Linked DNA regions of Homo sapiens: all the other regions are linked to region 1. Evidence: fine-mapped expression QTL. A gene starts in region 1. Each other region holds a variant in brackets. All regions are shown on one strand. Distances are from middle to middle.

What was found. PIP is the estimated chance that this variant, and not a neighbour inherited with it, causes the effect.
Region 2: its variant is fine-mapped to the expression of PLCD3 in skeletal muscle (GTEx, PIP above 0.99). The same link has a PIP of 0.9 or more in esophagus muscle, gastroesophageal junction, sigmoid colon, skin, sun-exposed skin and thyroid.
Region 3: its variant is fine-mapped to the expression of PLCD3 in nasal epithelium (TOPMed, PIP 0.99).

What each region holds. Positions count from the first base shown.
Region 1 is chr17:45,131,398-45,134,149 of GRCh38, reverse strand. It overlaps PLCD3 (phospholipase C delta 3), which reads left to right and starts at 1,635. Exons shown (of 15, transcript NM_133373.5): 1 at 1,635-1,902. The coding sequence starts at 1,740. It also overlaps a transcript of ACBD4 not described here. RefSeq lists an enhancer at 842-911 and silencers at 1,382-1,601, 1,702-1,831.
Region 2 is chr17:45,110,072-45,112,823 of GRCh38, reverse strand. PLCD3 (phospholipase C delta 3) reads left to right here. Exons shown (of 15, transcript NM_133373.5): 15 at 120-2,752. The coding sequence ends at 208. Among named protein-coding and RNA genes, the nearest start is that of MIR6784, 3.0 kb to the left of the region's middle. RefSeq lists enhancers at 1-28, 29-894. The variant G/C (reference allele first, on the strand shown) is at 1,301.
Region 3 is chr17:45,054,973-45,057,724 of GRCh38, reverse strand. It overlaps a transcript of DCAKD not described here. Among named protein-coding and RNA genes, the nearest start is that of DCAKD, 4.7 kb to the right of the region's middle. The variant A/T (reference allele first, on the strand shown) is at 1,245.

The DNA of each region.
Region 1 (2,752 bases):
TACAAATACAAATAACTAAAAGCGGAATTGGAATGTTCCTAATACAAAGGAATGATAAATGCTTGAGGTGATGGTTACTTCAATTACCTTGATTTGATCATTACACATTTTATACCTGTATCAAAACATTACATGCCTCTCCATAATTCTCTGCAACTATTAAGTGTCCATAACAATTAAAAGAAATGTAGACTTAGCCTATCCAACAACAAGAATAACAAAAGGGTAAACCAGGAGAATAAGGAAGGTTGTTTCTGGAGGAAGGAACGGCAGGATCAAAAGCACAAAGGCGAATACGATAATCAAGAAGAAAATTCAGGGCCGGGCGCGGTGGCTCACGCCTGTAATCCCAGCACTTTGGGAGGCCGAGGCGGGCGGATCACGAGGTCAGGAGATCGAGACCATCCCGGCTAAAACGGTGAAACCCCGTCTCTACTAAAAATACAAAAAATTAGCCGGGCGTAGTGGCGGGCGCCTGTAGTCCCAGCTACTTGGGAGGCTGAGGCAGGAGAATGGCGTGAACCCGGGAGGCGGAGCTTGCAGTGAGCCGAGATCCCGCCACTGCACTCCAGCCTGGGCGACGGAGCGAGACTCCGTCTCAAAAAAAAAAAAAAAAAAAAAAAAAAAAAGAAAATTCAGGACCCCAGAGTGGCGTAGGGACCCAAGCCAGTGTGCAGAATCTCTGGGCCTGGGAGATCTGAGGATGGGGTAGAGCAGGGCAAGTAGGTGGCAAATCAGGCCCTGAGCACTAGCCTCTCTGTAGGATGCCACGCCGCTGGCCGCCGCAAAGTGGCGGTGTGCGCCCATGTCTCTGCCGGACCCAGGCCACCGGCCGCAGAAACGCTGCCACCTGGACGTCCCCCACTTCGCGCACGCACTCTGGTGCTTGCATATAAATAGTAAGTGCACACCCGACTCGGCCACCAGAACCTGCACACGGATGCCCACCCACGGGTTGACGTCGCGGACAACTACACCGCGGGTGCCGGGCTGGGGTGCCGGCCTGTCCAAGCCTCGAACCCAGAACCAGTTGCTGGGGACTCCAGGCTCGGCTCCGCCTCACGCTCCCCAGGTCCGTCAGCTCCGAGACTGTGGCTCTCCGAGGGGGCAGCACCTGGCCTGGCACAGGGAGGTTAATCCTATGACGTCACTGCCAACCTCCCCACCCCCATGCCCATCCCTTCGGGTTCGCGCTGCCCCGAGCGGCTCAGCTCCCGGGGTTCTGCCTTCGCTCCCGGCCCTGCGTCCTGTCCCGGCTCTGGTTCCCTGCTGAGGCCTGCGGCGCGACGGGGACGCGGAAGGGAAGGAGGAGGGGGTCCTGCGTCAGCCTCGAGTCAGGGCCCCCGGGAAGGAGAGGGTGTCTGTGCCAGAGGATGGCCCTCGTCCCCGGTGCCGGCTCCCACCCCCAGCCCCGCAGCATGGGGGCTCTAGTCACCCTTGCGGCCAAGATCAGAGGCTCGCCCGGACTAAGGGGAGACGGACTCACGAGCAGGGGCGAGCGCTGAGGCTCCGGGCTTCCAGGCCACCGCCTGGCCCCGCCCTCGCACCGCCCCGGCCCCGCCCCCTTCCCTTCCCGCCCCGCCCCGCCCCACCTCCTGCTGCCTCCTCCGACTCCCTCCCGCGCCGCTAAGTTTCTTCGCTCGCCGCCTCGCTCAGAGCCGGGGCCGGGCCAGAGCGGCGCCCCGCTGCCCTGTCCCCGCGTGCAGACCCCGGGCCCGGCCCCGGCCCCCCGCCAAGCCATGCTGTGCGGCCGCTGGAGGCGTTGCCGCCGCCCGCCCGAGGAGCCCCCGGTGGCCGCCCAGGTCGCAGCCCAAGTCGCGGCGCCGGTCGCTCTCCCGTCCCCGCCGACTCCCTCCGATGGCGGCACCAAGAGGCCCGGGCTGCGGGCGCTGAAGAAGATGGGTCAGTGACGGGCAAGGGGCGGTGGGGTGGGCGCGGACCGTTCCCAGAGGCCCAGTCTGGGGCGCTCCAGGGAGCAGTTCGTGGATTCCCCAGGCTGCACGGGGCTGGGAGGCTATGGCTAGGGGCGGAGGGCCAGCTCCCTCCAGCTGGGGGTCGCACCTGGGGTCATCCGAGGGTCCCGGGGCGAGCCGGGCGCCCAGGGTGTTCTTTGCTTCCCACCAGGGGGCGCTCGCGGGGCGTCTGAAGCGCGAATTCGGGCACGGGGCGCTGGTGGGGTCTCCAAGGAGAATGGAGCGGGAGAGGGAGGCTTGGGGTGTCCCTCGTCCGGCTCCCCAGCAGTATCTAGGTTCTGCCAGGGTGTCTCGGGGTCTTGGCAGCCCTTAGGAAGGATGCGAGTTTGCGGTCGGCCTCCGCAGAAGAGGCTGGCCTCCACAGCAGCCCTCCAAGCCGCGGCCCCACAGAGGCGGCCACAGCCACACTGCTCTGGCAGGACTGGTCTAACAGCCTACGTCCGACAGCCAAGGCTCTCACCTCAGATTTGGGGAAGTCAGTCGTGGAGAAGGAATGTAACTGTGGCTCATTGGAACATCACAGAGGCAGCTGGCACTGGGTGGGTTACACAGGTGGTGTCTTGCAATCTTCCTCGACTTCCTAGGTGGGAGGTGAATCCTCATTTCACAAGTGAGGAAACTGACTCAGAGACGGCAAGGAATTTGCCTATGACCACACAGCCAACAAAGGGCAAAGTGTGACTGGCACCCCGGTGGTGCCCCACCACATGGGCCCTGGTACCCTCTCAGAGTCTGGGAAAAGTGGGACCCGCAGGGCAGTGGAGGGCTTGAATGAGAGG
Region 2 (2,752 bases), 21 kb after region 1:
CAGGTCCTGCAGACCCTGTTCACCTTTGTGCCTCGAATTTCCTGCCCTGAAGCAGGCCCGGGCTGGGCCAGACCCCCAGGGTGCACAGAGGACCTGAGGCCTGGCTGTCCTCCCTACAGGGTACCGCCACATACACCTGCTTTCCAAGGACGGGGCCTCACTGTCACCAGCCACGCTCTTCATCCAAATCCGCATCCAGCGCTCCTGAGGGCCCACCTCACTCGCCTTGGGGTTCTGCGAGTGCCAGTCCACATCCCCTGCAGAGCCCTCTCCTCCTCTGGAGTCAGGTGGTGGGAGTACCAGCCCCCCAGCCCACCCACTTGGCCCACTCAGCCCATTCACCAGGCGCTGGTCTCACCTGGGTGCTGAGGGCTGCCTGGGCCCCTCCTGAAGAACAGAAAGGTGTTCATGTGACTTCAGTGAGCTCCAACCCTGGGGCCCTGAGATGGCCCCAGCTCCTCTTGTCCTCAGCCCACCCCTCATTGTGACTTATGAGGAGCAAGCCTGTTGCTGCCAGGAGACTTGGGGAGCAGGACACTTGTGGGCCCTCAGTTCCCCTCTGTCCTCCCGTGGGCCATCCCAGCCTCCTTCCCCCAGAGGAGCGCAGTCACTCCACTTGGCCCCGACCCCGAGCTTAGCCCCTAAGCCCTCCTTTACCCCAGGCCTTCCTGGACTCCTCCCTCCAGCTCCGGAACCTGAGCTCCCCTTCCCTTCTCAAAGCAAGAAGGGAGCGCTGAGGCATGAAGCCCTGGGGAAACTGGCAGTAGGTTTTGGTTTTTATTTTTTGAGACAGGGTCTCGCTCCGTCGCCCAGGCTGGAGTGCAATGTTGCAATCATGGCTCACTGCAGCTTTGAACTCCCAGGCTCAAGCGATCCTCCCATCTCAGCCTCCTGAGTAGCTGGGACTACAGGCACAGGCCACCAAACCTGGCTAATGTTTAAATTTTATGTAGAGATGGCGGGGGGGGCGGGGGTCTCCCTATGTTGCCCAGGCTGGTCTCGAGCTCCTGACCTCAAGTGATCCTCCTGCCCCAGCATTCCAAAGTGCTGGGATTACAGGTGTGAGCCACTGCCTGGCCTGGCCGTAGGTTTGTAACTGTTTCATAGAAGAGCCCTGGAGAAGACAGTAGAATGAGCCTATCTAGTTTAAAAAATAAAGAAGCACGTTGATTTCACCACCGCCACTCCCTGAGCACCTCTATGCTGCCACCCCCACAGGCCCATGAGGAGGGACAGGGCTGGATGAGTTTCTTGGGCCTCTCCCCTCAACAGGGCATGGACTTGGCTAAGACAGCCAGGG[G/C]GTGGCAGCAGGAGATGCCACAGCTCTAAATAGCCCGATCCCTGCTCCTGGCTTAAAGCTGCTGCGAGTATCACAAGACTGTCTGAGGATGCCAATTCAGCAGGTCAGCGCCTCCCCACAACACACACACACACACACACACACACACACTCACACATACACAGAGGGGCCTTGAATGAGGAGGAGACAGGAGTCTGAGGGACCCTCAGACTGCCACTCTCCAGGCTTGGCTGGGCTCAAGGCCCCTGTCTGCTCAGTAGGGCAAATCCCAAGGACACGGGCTTCCCTTCCTCCAGCCAGCCAGCCTTTTACACAAAGGCTGGAAACGCTGCTTGGGCCGCCTCTATAGAAATGCCAGGAGAGCGCACTGGACACTAGGCGACAGAATCTGGAGAAAATCCTGCACCCGCCCCTGCCAGCAGGGTGAAATGTGGAGGCCTGGTGTTTTAGGTTCTGCCAGCCAACAGTGCCGGCACTGGACAAGGGCAGAACTTGACATTAGTCCCCAGAGGGTGGCCTGGAACTGGGCTGGGATAGGCCTTGAACTGGCCCCAAGCCCCACAGAAACCAAAACACAGGGCTGGGGCAGACTCCACCTTCTAGCAACTCCAAGAACTAATGCAGAAAGTGGCAGTGTCCCCCGCTCCTTCATGCTGGGAGTGGCGTTTGGCTCTGGTTAATTTGTGTGTCTGAAAGAGGATAATCAGAATCAAAAGGGCCCAGAAGGAATGGGCCGAGCCAGGCGGGCCGGGCCAGGCAGCCCGGGCATCTGGCACTCAGGGCTGTCAGAGGGTCAGGCTGCCAAACTGCAGCCTCAGGATGGGAGGCACAGTGAGGCTAAGTCCAGTTTTAGCAAATGAAGAGCCATTAGCATTGCCCAGCCCCTGCAGAGCCAGGTCTGGCCAGGGGCTGGCTGGGGGGTCTGGGTCAGGTGAGCACCAGACCCAGGGCTGAGTGCCCATCCTGCTTGGCTTCTCTGGTTTCGTATCTGGTACCAAGAGGAAGGGGTGAAGGCTAGGATGAGGGCCCAATACTGAGAAGGCTGCCTTGAAAGGGCAAGAGTCTTTTTTTTTTTTCTTTTGAGACAAAGTCTTGCTCGTCCCCCAGGATGGAGTGCGATGGCGTGATCTCGGCTCACTGCAACCTCTGCCTCCCGGGTTCAAGCGATTCTCTTGCCTCAGCCTCCGGAGTAGCTGGGATTACAGGCGCCCGCCACCATACCCAGCTAATTTTTGTATTTTTAGTAGAGACGGGGTTTCACCATGTTGGCCAGGCTGGTCTCGAACTCCTGACCTCAGGTGATCCACCCGCCTTGACCTCCCAAAGTGCTGGGATTACAGGCGTGAGCCACTGCACCCAGCCAAAAGGGCAAGAGTCTTTAAGGAAGTGAACTGGGAAGCAGAAGCAAGGGAGAAATCACAGGGTTTTTTTTTTGTTTGTTTTTTTGAGATG
Region 3 (2,752 bases), 76 kb after region 1:
TTACTGTTTTTTTTTTTTTTTTGAGATGGAGTCGCACTCTGTTGCCCAGGCTGGAGTGCAGTGGCACTATCTCGGCTCACTGCAACCTCTGCCTCCTGGATTCCAGCAGTTCTCCTGCCTCAACCTCCCGAGTAGCTGGGATTACAGGCACACACCGCCATGCCCAGCTAATTTTTTGTATTTTAGTAGAGACGGGGTTTCACCATGTTGCCCAGGCTGGTCTCCAACTCCTGAGCTCAGGCAATCCGCCTGCCTCGGCCTCCCAAAGTGCTGGGATTACAGGCATGAGCCACTGCGCCCAGCCGAGAGCTTTCCACTTTGAAACAATTTTGGTTTGTGAAAAGCTGGCCCGGTTCTGCCTTATGGAGTTATGCAGAAATATAGCTGGGTGAGGTGGCTCATGCCTGTAATCCCAACACTTTGGGAGGCTGAGATGGGTGGATCACTTGAGCCCAGGAGTGTGAGACCTGCCTGGGCAACATAGAGGACCCTGTCTCTAAAAAAAATACAAAAATTAGCGTGGCATTGTGGCATGCACCTATGGTTCTAGCTACTTGGGAGGCTGAGGTGGGAGGATCGCTGGAACCCAGGATCATGCCACTGCACTCCAGCCCGGACAACATGGCAAGGCCCCGTCTCTATATAAATAGGAAAAAAGGGCCAGGCGCAGTGGCTCACGCCTGTAATCCCAGTACTTTGGGAGGCCAAGGCGGGCAGATCATGAGGTCAGGGGATCGAGACCATCCTGGCTAACATGGTGAAACCCTGTCTCTACTGAAAATACAAAAAATTAGCCAGACGTGGTGGCGGGCGTCTGTAGTCCCAGCTACTTGGTAGGCTGAGGCAGGAGAACGGTGTAAACCAGGGAGGCGGAGCTTGCAGTGAGCGGAGATCACGCCACCGCACTCCAGCCTGGGTGACAGAGCGAGGCTCTGTCTCAAAGGAAAAAGGGCCAGGCACGGTGGCTCATGCCTATAATCCCAGCACTTTGGGAGGCCAAGGCAGGCGGATCACCTGAGGTCAGGAGTTTGAGACCAGCCTGGCCAACGTGGTGAAACCCCGTCTCTACTAAAAATACAAAATTTAGCTGGGCACAGTGGTGGACGCCTGTAATCCCAGCTACTCGGGAGGCTGAGGCAGGGAGAATTGCTTGAACCCGGGAAGTGGAGGTTGCAGTGAGCCGAGATCGCACCATTGCACTCCAACCTGGGCGACAGAGCAAGACTCTGTCTTGGGAAAAAAAA[A/T]ATATATATAAAAAAGAGTGCAGGCAGAGTGTGACTCCCTGGGTTCTAAATCCTGGCTCTGCCTCTGACTTAATGAATGACCTTAGGCAAGTCACTTAACCTCTGAGCTTTGATGTCATTATCTGTAAAATAAGACTTACATAGAGAGCCCTAAAAGTGTCTAGGACAGAATTAATACCCACTTAATTAGTATTTCCCTTCCCAGGAAGTCAGCATTACTGGTATGATAACCAAAGAAAAGTTTTCTTCATGATGTCCATCACAGATCAAGGCCTTTGCTGTACTTCCAGCATGTCAGAGATAACCTTCTTTTTTTTTTTTTTTTGAGACGGAGCTTTGCTCTTTTTGCCTAGGCTGGAGTGCAATGGTGCAATCTCTCCTCACTGCAACCTCTGCCTCCTGAGTTCAAGCGATTCTCCTGCCTCAGCCTCCTGAGTAGCTGGGATTACAGGTGCGAGCCACCATGCCTGGCTAATTTTTTGTATTTTTAGTAGAGAAGGGGTTTCACCATGTTGGCCAGGCTAGTCTCAAACTCCTGACCTCAGGTGATCCCCTGCCTTGGCCTCCCAAAGTGCTGGGAGTACAGGTGTGAGCCACTGTGCCCGGCCACATATAACCTTTCTTCTGGTGGACCTACGAAGCCATGAGATAGATTGTGATTCATTTATTCCAACCTCGGGAACACTGATGACTTGTCAGCCTCTATGGCAGGAACTGGAGAGTCAGGGGTAGAACAGTTCTAGCACAGTGCCTAAGAAAGTGGGGAGCACAGGCTGTCCAGAGGCAGGAGATCCTGGGGGGACATGGTGGCTTAGCTGAATGTTCATCAGGACAGTAAACAAACTGGGGTGGACCTTCTAGGTAGAAAGTCCAGGTGCCTGAGACTTGGGTGCTTTTGAGGTATGGCAATGAGAATGATATGACTTAGGACTGGAGCTTAGAAAGTGAGGAGTGTGTGCCTGTGGTTCCAGCTATTCAGTGGGAGGCTGAGATGGGAGGATCACTTGAGCCTGGGAGGCAGAGGTCACAGTGAGCCAAGATCGTGCCACTGCACTAACCTGGGTAACAGAGTGAGACCCTGTCTCAAAAATAAATAAATAAATAAATAAATAAATAAACGTACAGAAAATAAATTTAAAACCAGGAGCCAAAGGAGTCATCTCTAATGGACTCAGGGTTGTTCATCAAACAAAATGAGAAGCAGAACTGTATTCCAGGCATCATGCTAAATGCTAAGGACACAGAGGTGACTGAGATGCAGGCCACTCTCAGGATAAAATGAGATTGTGTAAGTAGCTACAGCCAGCTCAAAGTTTCTTATTGCCATCCTGAATCATGAAAGACATATATTTGAGCTGAAAAAGCCCTTGATGGCATCACATGGAAACTCCAAAGCCCAAGTTTCATTATGGAGGAGGTGCCTGGGTTGAAGGCCCTGTAGCAGCCCTTCACCCTTTCCTATGGGATCTTCCTGGGGCAGAGGTGCAGCTGCTTTTGGCAAATCGGAC